Linked DNA regions of Homo sapiens. The protein of the gene in region 1 interacts with the protein of each later gene in a pairwise test. Each region holds a gene or a part of one and is shown on either strand. Other genes may lie near its edges.

Evidence for each region.
Region 2: the proteins of NBPF19 (region 1) and MYPOP interact in a two-hybrid assay, tested with the Homo sapiens proteins (one large-scale study listed by BioGRID).

Annotation. Positions count from the first base shown.
Region 1 is NC_000001.11:149,498,691-149,502,774, reverse strand, and holds part of NBPF19 (NBPF family member NBPF19), read right to left. Parts: intron 3,703-4,084; coding exon 3,530-3,702; intron 2,821-3,529; coding exon 2,769-2,820; intron 2,119-2,768; coding exon 1,946-2,118; intron 1,232-1,945; coding exon 1,123-1,231; intron 490-1,122; coding exon 317-489; intron 1-316.
Region 2 is NC_000019.10:45,889,523-45,892,613, reverse strand, and holds the end of MYPOP (myb-related transcription factor, partner of profilin), read left to right. Parts: intron 1-334; coding exon of another isoform or gene 335-444; intron 445-1,290; coding exon 1,291-1,991; 3' UTR 1,992-2,591; downstream 2,592-3,091. UniProt on the Homo sapiens protein: Transcriptional repressor; DNA-binding protein that specifically recognizes the core sequence 5'-YAAC[GT]G-3'. Dimerization with PFN1 reduces its DNA-binding capacity.

The DNA.
Region 1 (4,084 bases):
AAATCTACAAGATCTACAAAATTGAGACAAAATCAGAGTTGCGTGAATTTGTCACATCTGCCCAGGTCCAGTGTCATGAGAGTAGGATTAGGGCGCCACAGGCATGGCCTGAGACTAGGAAGAGAGCCTTGCTCACTGACCCATCCCTTGTCTGGGCTGCCAAGTGGAACTAGAGTTTCATTCAACCTACATGTGCCTATAGGTCCTCCCTGTGGCAATGACATCTCTCAGCTCAGTAAGGGCCACTTGCAGTAGGAATATGACCCTAACCAGAAGACTCAGTGGATCCTTATCACCTTCATAGAAAGGTACTCACCATCCATGTCAACAGCCAAGCCAACACACTGTTGCTCCAATATGTAAAAGGCACTTCTGTAGGGCTGGCATGAGTCAGTCAGTTCAAGACAACCTGAAGGAGTTGAATAACATCTATCCAGTGAGTCCTGCAAGACTTCAGGCCCTTTCTCATCCAGCAGCTCCCTGCTGAGCCTGGAAAAGTGGGAAAAAGTAAAGAATAAGCCAGGGGGAATCAGAAACCGCACAGCCCCAGCTAGATTTCATGGCTAACGTTAAGGAAGAGTTTGAAAAGAAAAAGGACAGATCCATTAATGAGGTAACAAATTATTGCCTTTATGTTGGGATAGAACAGGGCCAGGTAGAAAACAATGAAAGAGAAAGACAGAGAGAGAGAGAGAGAGAGACAGAGACAGAGAGAGAGACAGAGACAGAGACAGAGAGAAAGTGACCTAGTGAATTGGCCAGGTGACATACTGGTAAGGGAGTAAAAGGACACTCTGAGTTAGTGCCCTCATGACACACAGCAAACTGTGATCATGAAAAGAGTGAGCTCAATAGTTTTCCATAAAATATGCTCAAAATTCGATGCAGTGGCCATGAGAGTACAGCTTTTGAAGTATGGTCAACCTATGGTACGTTAGGAAATGATAAGGGGAGGAAGAAATGGAAACCTAAACATCTACTGCAATGAAAACCAACAGCAATGACAGTAGGAGTAATTCAGCCTTCGTTGAAAACATGACATCAAACACACTCTGGTTTCCCTGAATCTGTTGCCTCCAGGTGTTAACACAGAATTAAGCATCCACAATTGCTGAAAGTCACCTGGGGCATGGTGGGTTTTGATCTTCTTCCCCTTCTTTTCTTCCCCTTCTTCTTTCCTTCTTTGATCTTCTTCCCCTTCTTTTCTTCCCCTTCCCCTTCTTTTCAATTTCTGCAATAAATTCAGACATGGACAGACACATTAAGCTGATTCCCCTACACACATAACAATCCACTGTCTAATCCTCACACAGGGACCTCAGGCTCCTCAGCATAAGAATAGGACACTGTGAGAGATATATTTCAGGAGGCCTGAAGGCTGGTCATGATAGAAATTCCTCGGTTTTTCTCCCAGAAACTGTGGGTAAAATGTCCCTATTCTAGTAGATCGTTATCCCAATATCATTTGTCCCAAGTTTGTGCAAACAGTTATGCCATATTTTTCCAATCAATTTAAAGCAAATACCCTCAAATGATTTCTAGGAGAAAAACTGCAATATTTAGCCCTGTCTCATCAAATACTCAGATTGTTCATGGTTGTGAGGACTTTAGACACTGAAATTAGAGTGAAAAAGGAAATCTACAAACCCTTGAGTCAAAATCATAGTTCTCTGAATTTGTCACATCTGCCCAGGTCCAATGTCATGAGAATAGGATCAGGGCGCCACAGGTATGGCCTGAGACTAGGAAGAGAGTCTTGCTCACTGACCCATCCCTTGTCTGGGCTTCCAGGTAGAACTAGAGTTTCATTCAACCTACATGTGCCTATAGGTCCTCACTGCGGCAACGACATCTCTCAGCTCAGTAATGGCCACTTGGAGCAGGAATATGATCTTTATATGGAAGACTCAGTGGATGCTTATCACCTTCATAGAAAGGTACTCACCTCCCACGTCAAGAGAAAAGCCAACATGTTTTTCCTCCAATGCATAAAAGGAACTTCCATAGGGCTGGCAGGAGTCAGGCTGTTCAAGACAACTGGAAGGAGTTGAATAACATCTATCCAGTGAGTCCTGCAAGACTTCAGGCTCTACTACCTCCACCAGCTCCCTGCTGAGCCTGGAAAAGGAGGAAAAAGTAAAGAATAAGCCAGGGGAAATCACACACAACAGAGCCCCAACTAGGTTTCATGGGTAGCATAGGGAAGTGGTTAAGAAAGTAAAAGGATAGATCCATTAATGAGGTAACAAATTATTGCCTTCATGTTGGGACAGAACAGGGCCAAATGGAAAAGAATGAAAGAGAAAGACAGATGGACACACACACACACACACACACACGCACACACACACACACACACACACAGAGAGAGAGAGAGAGAACGAGCTCAGTGAATTGTCCAGGTGACACACTGATGAGGGAGTAACAGGACACTCTGAGTTAGTGCCCTCAGGACACACAGCATACAGTGATCATGAAAAGACTGTGCTCAATAATTTTCCATAAAATGTGCTCAAGTTTCCATGCAGTCGCCATGAGAATACAGTTTTTGAAGTCTGGTCCACCTACAGTAGGTTAGTAAATGATAAGGGGAGGAAGAAATGGAAACCTAAATATCTACTGCAATGAAAACCAACAGCAATGTTAGTAGGAATAATTCAGGCTTGCTTGAAAAGATGTAATCGATAATGTCAGCCCGCTCTGTTTTCCCTGAACCAGGAGTCTCCAGATGTCAACACAGAAGTAGCTGTTCACAATTGCTCAGTTACCTGGGGCATGGTGGGTCTTGGTCTTCTTCCTCTTCTTGGTCCTTTTTAATTCCTGCAATACATTCAGACAGGGACAGACAAAATAAGCCAATTCACCTACACCCATAACAGTCCACTGTCTAATCCCCACACAGGGATCTCAGGCTCCTCAGCATGAGAACAGGACAATGTGAGAGATATACTTCAGGAGGCCTGAAAGCTGGTCATGATATTCTTTGGTTTGCATCTCAGAACCAAGGGTGAAATATCCCCATTCTGGTAGATCGTTATCCCAAAATCACTTATCCCAAGTTTGTGCAAACAGTTATGCCTTATTGTTCCCATCAGTTCAAAGAAAATGCCCCAGATGATTTCTAGGAGGAAAACTGCAGTATTCAGCCCTGTCTCATCAAATGCCCAGCTCGTTCATGGATGCAAGAATTTTAGACACTGAAATTAGAATGAAGGAGGAAATCTACAAACCCTTGAGTCCAAATCATAGTTCTGTGAATTTTTTGCATCTGCCTGGGTCCAATGTGCTGAGAGCGGGCTCAGGTTGCCACAGGCATGGCTGGAGACTAGGAATAGAGCCTTGCTCACTGACCCATTTCATGTCTAGGCTTCCAACTGAGACTACAGTTTCATTACAACCTATATGCGCCCACAGGTCCTGCCTGCGGCAATGACATCTCTCGGGTCAGTAAGGGCCACTTGGAACAGGAATATCACCCCTATCTGGAAGACCAGGTGGAGGCTTATCACCTTCATAGTAAGGTACTCACTGTCCACGTCAAGAGCCAAGCCAAGGTACTGTTCCTCCAATGAGTAAACAGCACTGCTGTAGGGCTGGCCTAAGTCAGGCAGTTCAAGATAACCTGAAGGAATCGAATAACATCTATCCAGTGAGTCCTGCAAGACTTCAGGCTCTTTCTCATCCAGCAGCTCCCTGCTGAGCCTGGAAAAGTAGGAAAAAGTAAAGAATAAGCCAGGGGGAATCAGAAACCACACAGCCCCAGCTAGATTTCATGGCTAACATAAGGAACTGTTTAAAAAGAAAAAGGACAGATCCATTAATGAGGTAATGAATTATTGCCTTTATGTTGGGATAGACCAGGGCCAGGTAGAGAAGAATGAAAGAGAAAGACAGGGAGAGGGAGAGAGAGAGAGAGAGAGAGAGGAGAAAGTGAGCTCAGCGAGTTGGCCGGGTGACACACTGATGAAGGGGTCAAAGGACACTCTGAGTTAGTGCCCTCGGGACACACAGCGAACAGTGATCATGAAAAGAGTGGGCTCAATAATTTTCCATAAACTTGCTCAAGATTCCATGCAGTTGCCAT
Region 2 (3,091 bases), on another chromosome or scaffold:
GGAAGGAGCAGGGTGGGGGAGGATCAGAAGCCCAGCTCCGAGCAAGTGAGTTTGGGGCGTTTTTCGACAATTGAGAGTACACAGCTGGAGACAGGAGTCTGGAGCCCAGGCGAGAGGTTCAGGCTGAGCCCAGGAAGCTGGGAGCCCCTGTATGCAAACTGTTCAAGCCCATGAGCATGAATGAGACCCCAGGTGAGTACAGACTGAGGAAACCTACCAGGCTGGGGGCTGAACTGGAAAATCCTGCTGTCCTGGTTGGAGAGAGTCTCAGGGAAGTGTCCACCAGTGCCCAGACACCCCAGCTCTCTCCCAGACCTCTCTCTCACTTCCTCAGGATCCAGCAGTGTGGTGCAGTATCCATATAGTTCAGAACCTCGTCAAATGTTGGCCCTTGTCCGAGCGCAGTGGCTCACACCTGTAATCCCAGAACTTTGGGAGGCCGAGGTGGGTGGATTGCTTGAGGTCAGGAGTTTGAGACCAACCTGGCCAACATGGCAAAACCCCATCTCTACTAAAAATACAAAAATTTAGCCAGGCGGGGTGGCGCCTGCCTGTAATCCCAGCTACTTAGGAGGCTGAGGCAGGATAATCGTTTGAAGCCGGAAGACAGAGGTTGCAGTGAGCCGAGATCACGCCACTGCACTCCAGCCTAGGCTACAAAGTGAGACTTTGTCTCAAAAAAAATTAAAAAAATAAAAAAACTGTTGGCTCTTACTGTGAGTGAGATGGGAGCTGCCTGGCCTAGCAAGGGACTTCCAGGACCTGTTTCCACTAAAGCTGGCAGGACTTTTTCTCCTCCGGGTACAAAGACTGGCCTGCCATGGAGCTTCTCTTCCAAGGCATGATCTGACTTAGGTTTTAAAAGGATCATTCTGGGGCCAGGCGCGGTGGCTCACACCTGGAATCCCAGCACTTTGGGAGGCCAAGGCGGGCGGATCGCCTGAGGTCAGGAGTCCGAGACCAGCCTGGCCAACATGGTGAAACCCTGTCTCTTATTAAAAATAGAAAAAGTAGCCGGGTGTGGTGGCGGTCACCTGAAATCCCAGCTACTCGGGAGGCTGAGGCAGGATAATCGCTTGAACCCAGGAGGTGGAAGGTGCAGTGAGCCAAGATTGCACCACTGCACTACAGCCTGGGTGACAGACCAAGACTGTCTTGGGGCTGGGGGGCGGGGGTGAGAAGGATAGTTCTGGGTTCGGGTAGGGGGGAGGTGAGGGAAGGAGTGGGAAAGGGGAAATCAAGGCAGCATCGAGGGTCGCTCACCCCTTACCTGTATTTCTCTCTCTACAGATACATCAGCCCACAGCAAGGCGGGCTCCAGCAGCCCGGAGCCATGGGCCCGGCCCTCCTGCACTCCCCAGGAAGGGGGCTGCCCACGGCCCAAGGAGCGTGAGTCACCACCCCCTTCGGCCCTGCAGCCGGTCCAGCTGCCTCGCCTGGCCTTGTCTCCACCACCCCCAGCCCCTCCACTGCCACCCCCACCGCCACTGGCCCAAGTGGCACCCTCACCCCCTAGCCCCCCACCCCCTCCTCGGCCTCCACCCACGCTCTCGGCCTCAGACCCCTCCCTGGACTTCCTGCGGGCCCAGCAGGAGACTGCCAACGCCATCCGGGAGCTGGCCGGCACCCTTCGACAGGGACTGGCCAAACTGAGCGAGGCCCTCAGCGCTCTGCTGCCCCTTCTGCCAGGAACCCCAGTTGACTCCCTGCCTCCACCTCTGCCCCCACCCCCACCCCCACCGCCACCTCCCAGGCCTGTCCTGCCCCCACCGGCCCCCAAGGTGGAGATCACCCCAGAGCCCGTGTCCGTGGTGGCTGCTGTGGTGGACGGGGCAGTGGTGGCAGCCAGGGGAGTGATCATTGCCCCAAGGAGCGAGGAGGGGGCACCCCGGCCCCCCCCAGCCCCGCTCCCTCCGCACGACTCCCCCCCACACAAGCGGAGAAAAGGTTTCCCTACACGGAAAAGGCGCGGCCGATGGAAATCTCCGTGAAATCTACTATCTATGATCCTGCCTGCAACCCCTCTCCCCAGCTTGGCGCAGTCGAGGGGGGCGATGCTCTCTGCCCATCCCAGCTGCACCCTAGCTCCCTGCTCCAGGGATGTGAGCACCCACTCCCTGTGCTAGTTAGTGCCTGATTCTCTGGGGGGGGCCTCAGTAATGGGCCCCCCCAACCCCTTTCTCTGGTACAGTGCTGTCTGCCTGGCTGCCTCCCTTAACCCTGACTTCTAAGCCATCAATTTCATGTTATTTATTATTGCCCTATGTGGGGTGGGGAGGGAACCTCTCGGGTCTGCACATCTCCCCTTCCCTAACAGTTCCTGTTCTTGACTTGAAGAGAATTGACCCGTGGGGGACTCCCCACCTCCCCAACCCAGACTTTGGAGCGGGTGGGAGTTGTAAGACAAATCAAAATACGGATGACAAAGAGGATATAGCCGTGTATACCCCAGGGAGAGGAGGCGCCGAGTTCTGATGGGAGAGGTACAGGTTGGGTTCTCTGCCTACCATTGCTGTCTCTGACTTCCAGAGCTCAACCCCCTCCTTTCTCCCAGTGGTGACAAGATATCAATAAACTTATTTTTAATACAATTACTTGAGGCTCTGTCTGAGACAGGCCTGGGGGACCAGCACCTACACCTGCCCCGCCCCCTCCACAGGCAGGCAATTGGGAGGCTGGTGGTTTTCCAGCTTTTTTTTTTTTTTAATTCTTAAAGCCATCAAGTCTTGTGTTTACATGAAATCTTATTCCTACTCTTCCTTTAGATACCAGTCTAAATGTCAACTCCAGGAGAAAGTCCTAGATTCCTTCCCCAAGGCTAACGTGGGTTTGCCTCTTAGAGTCTCTTTCAGTGTCCTGTGGTTCTTTTTCTTTTTCTTTTCCTTTCTTTTCTTTTCTTTCCGTTTTTTTGAGATAGGATCTCGTTCTGTTGCCCCAGCTGGAGTGCAGTGGCATGATCACAACTCACTGTAGCCTCGATCTCCCAGGCTGAAGCAATCCTTCTGCCTCAGCCTCCCAAGTAGCTGGGACCACAGGCATGTGCCACCATGCTCAGCTAATTGTTTTATTTTTCTAGAGATGGGGTTTTCTA